Homo sapiens: one gene and its partner. The protein of the gene in region 1 interacts with the protein of each later gene in a pairwise test. Each region holds a gene or a part of one and is shown on either strand. Other genes may lie near its edges.

Evidence for each region.
Region 2: the proteins of TIMP3 (region 1) and AGTR2 interact in binary tests that used the Homo sapiens proteins (3 or more experiments, as listed by UniProt).

What each region holds. Positions count from the first base shown.
Region 1 is NC_000022.11:32,853,639-32,857,461, forward strand, and holds part of TIMP3 (metalloproteinase inhibitor 3 precursor), read left to right. Parts: intron 1-3,610; coding exon 3,611-3,722; intron 3,723-3,823.
Region 2 is NC_000023.11:116,169,138-116,173,543, forward strand, and holds the start of AGTR2 (type-2 angiotensin II receptor), read left to right. Parts: upstream 1-1,606; 5' UTR 1,607-1,679; intron 1,680-1,830; 5' UTR 1,831-1,890; intron 1,891-3,108; 5' UTR 3,109-3,143; coding exon 3,144-4,235; 3' UTR 4,236-4,406. UniProt on the Homo sapiens protein: Receptor for angiotensin II, a vasoconstricting peptide. Signals primarily via a non-canonical G-protein- and beta-arrestin independent pathways. Cooperates with MTUS1 to inhibit ERK2 activation and cell proliferation.

The DNA of each region.
Region 1 (3,823 bases):
TCTGAAGTTCTAAACCAGCTTTAACTACTCTTGTTAAGAGCTGAGGAAGGGACTTAGGAGAAAGGGGACCAAACTCATTCCTCCTCTCCTTACGAATTTCAGTATAACTTGTTCTAAGCTAACTTTTATTGAATGTTGTGGGCTGACTGCTATTCTAAGTCATTTGCTTCTCTCAAACACCCTAAGAAGTGCTTTGACCCATTTTACAGATGAAGAAACTGAGACCCAAAGAGGTTAAGTAACTTTCCAAGTGGCGAACACAGGTGGCAGAGAAGATTGAAGATTCAAACTCTGGCTGTCAGCCTCCAAAACCTGAATTTACCACTGATCTCCATGGCATTGGTTTGGATTAGATTACCTTTAACATCTTTTCCAACTCTGAGATTCTAGGATTCTCTGATGTCAGGACATTATAAACCTATTATAACTCTCCTAAATTTGTCAAACCAATTCTAGATCTCTATGATTACAGACATGATACTTTTAGAATCAATATTTAAATCAAGGTAGGATTATTACACAGAAAACACAACTGAGTAGAATCTACCTTTGCCATGTTGTTCTTTTCAGAATTGACCCTAAAACACAGCGCTATGTTTGTCAGAGCCAGTCATTTGTAATGTGTCAGAATTTCGACTCTAGGCAAGTGCTAGGAGCTAAAATGCAGGTTCCTTCAAACTTCCAAGTAGCTGCGGTGCCAAGCTGATTTCGATGAGTTGAGTTCTTACTGAGCAGTTCAAATGACCAGACTGTAACCAGGGGCTTCATTCTCTCACCCACGAAGCACTAGGGCAGTCAAGGGGAAAGACTGACGCAGAAGGAATGAGGTTCCCATGGGCTGGGTCCAAAAGACCTAGAGCGAGTGCTTAGTTGAAACATTTGCCAAAACCTCAAGGAACACCCACACAAAAATAAGAAGTTGCTCGGCACAGAAGTCAGGGTAGGGGATGTTCTTCGAAGGCCACACTCCATGGCAGGCATACAGCAGCACGCTTAAACATGGTTCCTGTTAAGGCTAGAGAGGCACCATTCACATAGAAGAAGTCATCATCGTGACTCTACCCACCCCGCGCCCCCACCGCGTAATTGAATGCTGAGTGTGGACGGCACTTCTTCCAGCACTTGGCTGCGTTACCGTGCTCAGTTGGCAAGCCTTGGGGGAGAAGAGAGGTTCAGAAGGAAGACCATCTGAGTCCATCAGAACAATGTGTGCTTTTAACAAGGCAGGGGCGCCCAAACTCAGTAGGTCCAACAGACCAAGTTATGCTATGAAGGTCTTGTGGACCACCTACCCCCGCCAACCAGTCACCACTTAAAAGATGAGAAAACGCCAGCTCACAGGCCAAATGGGAGGCATTTAGAAGAGACACCAATGAAGAGATGTCTGGCTTTGTATTAATTACTGTAGGTAAATTAATACCAAATGCCAGGAAGTAAAGTAGAGGCATTTTCCTATTATAAACCCTTGGGACAAGCCCAGAGACCACCAGCAGTCCAGGGCTTGTGTACGCTGAGAACTGAGGGGATAACAGAATTGTGCAACACCTTGGTGCCCCACCGCCCCCGTTACCAAATCTCACAGTTCACAGTATCGCCTTGGCACACTGGGCTTGTGTAATACTCATGGACTTGACCTGGAATCACAAAGCGGACTCAGCTTCTGTTACATTCATTCACCCCAGTGACTCTGGGCACACACTGTGCCTCTGAAGGAGGCACAGTGGCCATAAATGGAAATAGCATTTGCCTGCTTCTGGGGACCTTGGTCATAGACTTCTGAGGCTTTCCTGGGAGCCAGTCTAAGATAATGGGTAAGAGTATGGACTCTGAAGGCAGAGTCCTCTGCTTGGAATCCTAGCCCTGCCATTTCCCAACTGTGTGGCCTTAACAAGCTACTTAGCCTGCCTGTGACTCAGGCTCCTCATCTATAAAATGGGCATAATAGTTCCTACCTCATAGGGTTGTCATGGTGATTCGTGGGCTAATATTAAAGGAGATTTCTCAACCTCAGTACCATTGACATTTGGGGCCGGATAATTCTTTGTTCTGGGGGCTGTCCTGAGTATTATGGGATGTTTAGCAACCTCCCTACCCTCTACGAACTGTTGTGACAACCAAAATTGTCTCCAGACATTGCCACATGTCCCAAATATTTCCTAGGGGGGCAAAATTGCCTCCAGTTGAGAACCACTGTATTAGATTATGTCGTAGATACAAATAGCCAAATATCAGCAATTTCACGTGGTTCAATCTAACAATTATAAAGTATTTAACAGTTAAAACTCTTTGAACTTTGTAGATACATTTATGTGCTTCATCTGGGATAAACGAACCCAATGCTTTCACCAGACGCTCAGAAGAATAAAAAACATGGAGAATTTCTAGCTTGAATTCAACGTTCACCAGCCAAATAGAATTTCTATAAAGTGGGGTTTGTAATACATCCCTCCCAGGGCTCTTTTAAGGATACTGCAAGGAGAATGTGAGTGAGAATGTTTTTGTGGGCTGGAAAGTGTCACAGAGATATCATGAGAATGCTGGCTGAGTTCACGGGACTCAGGTCCTAAGGTTGACAAAGAAAAAGGACCTTTGTCACAGCTACTTCTCTGGATTTCTGAAAAGGTGCTGGGATGTCAGACATGTGTAGCCGAAGGAGTGTTGTGGGGCAGTTGGAATGGGGGGTATGGCTGGCTGCACAGGAAGGTTTCTCTGGGAAGGCACCAACCTGGCTAGTCAAGAGGATCGGTGGCTTCATCTGGGGTGAAGGGGGCCCTGGGGTGGGTAGATCAGTGACCGGCCACTGGACAGCTGAATAGGGGAGCGAGATTCCCTCAGATCCAATGTCAGCAAGCCTTCTGGGTACTGAGACTCCTCTCCTGTGTTCCTCTTATTTTATTGATACATAATAAATGGACATATTTTGAGAGTCCATGTGGTATTTTGATATATTCAAAAATGTATAGTAATCAAATCAGGGTAATTGGGATATTCATAACCTTAAACATTTATCGTTTCTTCATGCTGGGAACATCTGAATTATCCTCTACTAGCTACTTTGAGATATACAATAAGTTATTGTTTACTGTAGTCATTCTACTGATTCAATGAACACTGGGTCTTACTTGTTCTGCGTACTCGTATTTTTGTACCCATTAATTATATCTCTTTGCCCCAATCCTTATTACCTTTCTTGCCTCTGGTAACCACCAATCCACTGTCCATCTTTATGAGATTTACTTTCTTAGCTCCCACATGAGTGAGAACATGGTGTATTTGTCTTTCTGTGCCTGGCTTATTCCGCTTAGCAAAACGACCTCCAGTTCCAGCTGCATTGCCACAAATGACAAGATTTCATTCTTTTTTCTGGATGAATCATATTCCATTGGGTATAGATACCAGGTTTTGTCTATCCATTCATCTGTTGATGGGCACTTAGGTTGATTTCATATCTTGGCTATTGTGAATATTGCTGCAGTCAACATGAGAGTGCAGACCCCTCTTCCATATTCCGATTTCCTTTCCTTTGGATACATACCCAGCAGTGGGATTAGGGATCATACGGGTGTCCAAACTGGGAAAGAAGAAGTCATGATGTTCCTTTTGCCCACAGATGTACCGAGGCTTCACCAAGATGCCCCATGTGCAGTACATCCATACGGAAGCTTCCGAGAGTCTCTGTGGCCTTAAGCTGGAGGTCAACAAGTACCAGTACCTGCTGACAGGTAATGGCCAACTCTAGCTTCTAGGCCAGGGTTTGGCCAAGGTCCACTGTTTCTTGACTTCAGAAGAACACATACGGAGTAGTTGACTCACCAAATGTCCA
Region 2 (4,406 bases), on another chromosome or scaffold:
CATTCTTTACCTGTGGCCTGCAGCATGGACAGGTGCATTCTTGCTGCTTATCTGAAAAATATGATCCACAGAAATAACTTGAATCTTTTTGCCCATTTAAAATGTGCTCTAGGTTCTCTGGTTCTCTGTACTAACTATAGAAAGCCATCTAGTCACAAGTTTCTCCTTCCTGTGGTCTCCATTTGGGCAATACAATTAAGAAAAATACGTTTCCCCACATAACAATTCTTCCAATTCTTTTCCCCTTCTTTGATGCTTTTATGATAGATTATGAATGGTCATCAGTGATTTTCTGTAAATGCCACGTTTCCTTTTTGCCAAGACAAAGAGTGAGACTAAGGGACCATCTAGTGCTTCCTCTTGTGGTATAGAGGCTAAACAGCGTGAGTTCTGATATTAGTTTCCTTTGATTTAAATGCAAGTGTCTTCATTTAATAGCTGTATGATCTCAGAAAAGTTATTAAACTCTATGAGTCCTAGTTTCCTGATTTGTAAAGTGGGGGCTAATATGAATAGCTTGTAATAGCACCTACCATATGCTAGGCATGATTTTAGGCACTTTAAACATATTAGCTCATTTAATTTTCCATTAGCTTATTTAAAATTCCTACTCTACGATGTAGGTAATTTATATCATTCTCCTTTCTCAGATGAGAAACTGAGACATGAAGAAGTAAAGTAACTTGGCCAAGGTCAGAATTAGTAAGTGGTAGAGCTGGGTTTGTAAAGCCAGGTAGTTGGATCCCAGAGGCTATTTACTAACCAGTGTGCTATATTGCCTCTCTATTAAATTATTGATGATAAATAACTCATCACAGTGTTCGGCACATAACATTTATTGTCAGCTAGTATTATCACTACCATCACCTGTTCTTATCTTTCTTCATTTTGTCACTCTTGCTTCTGCTGGATTGGTTGTGTAGTTTATTGCCCCCACTGCCACAAGAGACAGCAGCAACAGTGATCTAGGTTGAAATAGCTAGCGAATCCCTCTTCACTTTATGTGCTTTGTATTTAAACCACAAATATGACAGAGACCTATGAAAGGAGACTAAACCTCTTTTTGGTCGTGTAAAAATTATATTCCTGCAATCTCCAACCCTCCAGCAACAAGCCAACAAAAACTGCGCAAAGCAAGGGAGAAATTTTAGAAGTGGTAGACTTCAAGTAAAATTCCTACCATTCTTTAATAAACAGGGGTAAAAATTTCAGAAAGTAATGAAGGTTGTGAAAGCTGATGAACAAAGACTTTGCTACTATAATAAATTTCCTAGTCTCTACTCACTAATTTCTATTAGAATGCCAATATCAGGAAAAAAGGAAGAGAAAATTCTGTAAATAATTACTATATTTTTCTCCTACCAAGTAAGCCACTGACTTCAAAATTCTCTAGCACATTTGTGGAAACTTCATTTTTTTTGTTTGAGATTTATTTGAATGAGCTGTTATGATTGGAGACAGTGAGAATTTCAGATTAATGTTTTGCAGACAAAAAAAAACCTCTCTGGAAAGCTGGCAAGGGTTCATAAGTCAGCCCTAGAATTATGTAGGTTGAAGGCTCCCAGTGGACAGACCAAACATATAAGAAGGAAACCAGAGATCTGGTGCTATTACGTCCCAGCGTCTGAGAGAACGAGTAAGCACAGAATTCAAAGCATTCTGCAGCCTGAATTTTGAAGGTAAGTATGAACAATTTATATATAATTTACTTGGAAAGTAGAACATACATTAAATGAAAATATTTTTTATGGATGAACTTCTGTTTTTCCTGTGTTTTAACACTGTATTTTGCAAAACTCCTGAATTATTTAGCTGCTGTTTCTCTTACAGGAGTGTGTTTAGGCACTAAGCAAGCTGATTTATGATAACTGCTTTAAACTTCAACAACCAGTAAGTCTTCAAGTGGAATTTATTATTGATTCTTTTATGTTAATTTGTTAGGTCAAAAGAAAAATCTTTAGAGCAAAATAAAAGTTTTGCTCTTTATTAGGAGGTTCTTTAGATATTACACTTTTAATTGGGTAGCTTATTTGCATGTATTTTGAAACTATCTAAAGTAAATAGTGTTTCCTTTGTATGCTTATCTTTAGCTAATGTGTTTTTTTTTTTGGTTTTAAAATAATGCTTCTAGTGAAAAAAATCACAAAAACCTCAACACTGTAACGTTTGAGAGCAACGGCTATTCAGTTCGGTTAAACCGAAAAGAGAGAAAAAGAAAAATGATAAGACTATATCATGATTAATCATTGATGTTCATTTCTCATTTCACTGAGCAATCTAAACTACTTCTACTTGAACCTAACATAGGTTTGGCTGTTTTTTTCTTTATCTGATTTAATTGAAAATGGATTGTTTAGATATTAAATAGACCAAAATTAGATATCTATATCTAAAACTAATATTCTCTATTAAAAGGAGAAGACTTAGAAATATAAATATATTTCATAACTTCTTCTTAACTATATTATTATTGTGAAAACAATAGAAAAGTAAAACTAAAGGAATTATTTTTAATTATTAAAGACAAACCATGATTCCCCATCACAATATGTTCCTTTGGCATATTCTCTTTTAGTTTTTTATATACTTATTTTTTCCATTGCTTATGTTACTTATATTTTCCACAGCTGTAGTGATTTGTATGTAATTAGTTACTTAAATAGAGCATTTCTCTATGCAATAGCAAGCAGCAGTGTGGTTTCTAGAAAGTATACAAACAGAGATATATGCTCAAGTGTTTTTTGAAAGATTAACTTTTCTTACCTCTGGGTTTCTTATTTGTTTCACACATTTCCTGCCCTGACTAATCTTTTGAAATATTAATTTTCTTTAAATCTTTCAAAAACATCATAGAAAAGATGGGCAAAAGGTAGTTTTATTCAGAACTTTGAATCTCTGAAATGTCTTTTTTCTACTATCAGGAAAATTATTTCTCCTTTTTCAAGAGGTAAAATGAATTCTTGTTTTACAAGCCATGGCTCTGTTTCTTAATGTTTTCTATAATCACTCACTTTTTTTTTGCTTTTGACAAACATTCAAAATGCTAATGATTCAAGGATGTCCTCAGCTCTGTATGTGTTCTAAGAGTTCTATGTTTTTTCTCCACAGAAGGCATAAGAACTAGGAGCTGCTGACATTTCAATATGAAGGGCAACTCCACCCTTGCCACTACTAGCAAAAACATTACCAGCGGTCTTCACTTCGGGCTTGTGAACATCTCTGGCAACAATGAGTCTACCTTGAACTGTTCACAGAAACCATCAGATAAGCATTTAGATGCAATTCCTATTCTTTACTACATTATATTTGTAATTGGATTTCTGGTCAATATTGTCGTGGTTACACTGTTTTGTTGTCAAAAGGGTCCTAAAAAGGTTTCTAGCATATACATCTTCAACCTCGCTGTGGCTGATTTACTCCTTTTGGCTACTCTTCCTCTATGGGCAACCTATTATTCTTATAGATATGACTGGCTCTTTGGACCTGTGATGTGCAAAGTTTTTGGTTCTTTTCTTACCCTGAACATGTTTGCAAGCATTTTTTTTATCACCTGCATGAGTGTTGATAGGTACCAATCTGTCATCTACCCCTTTCTGTCTCAAAGAAGAAATCCCTGGCAAGCATCTTATATAGTTCCCCTTGTTTGGTGTATGGCCTGTTTGTCCTCATTGCCAACATTTTATTTTCGAGACGTCAGAACCATTGAATACTTAGGAGTGAATGCTTGCATTATGGCTTTCCCACCTGAGAAATATGCCCAATGGTCAGCTGGGATTGCCTTAATGAAAAATATCCTTGGTTTTATTATCCCTTTAATATTCATAGCAACATGCTATTTTGGAATTAGAAAACACTTACTGAAGACGAATAGCTATGGGAAGAACAGGATAACCCGTGACCAAGTCCTGAAGATGGCAGCTGCTGTTGTTCTGGCCTTCATCATTTGCTGGCTTCCCTTCCATGTTCTGACCTTCCTGGATGCTCTGGCCTGGATGGGTGTCATTAATAGCTGCGAAGTTATAGCAGTCATTGACCTGGCACTTCCTTTTGCCATCCTCTTGGGATTCACCAACAGCTGCGTTAATCCGTTTCTGTATTGTTTTGTTGGAAACCGGTTCCAACAGAAGCTCCGCAGTGTGTTTAGGGTTCCAATTACTTGGCTCCAAGGGAAAAGAGAGAGTATGTCTTGCCGGAAAAGCAGTTCTCTTAGAGAAATGGAGACCTTTGTGTCTTAAACGTGAGAGCAAAATGCATGTAATCAACATGGCTACTTGCTTTGAGGCTCACCAGAATTATTTTTAAGTGGTTTTAATAAAATAATAAAATTTCCCCTAATCTTTTCTGAATCTTCTGAAACCAAATGTAACTATGTTTTATCGTCCAGTGACTTTCAGGAATTGCCCATT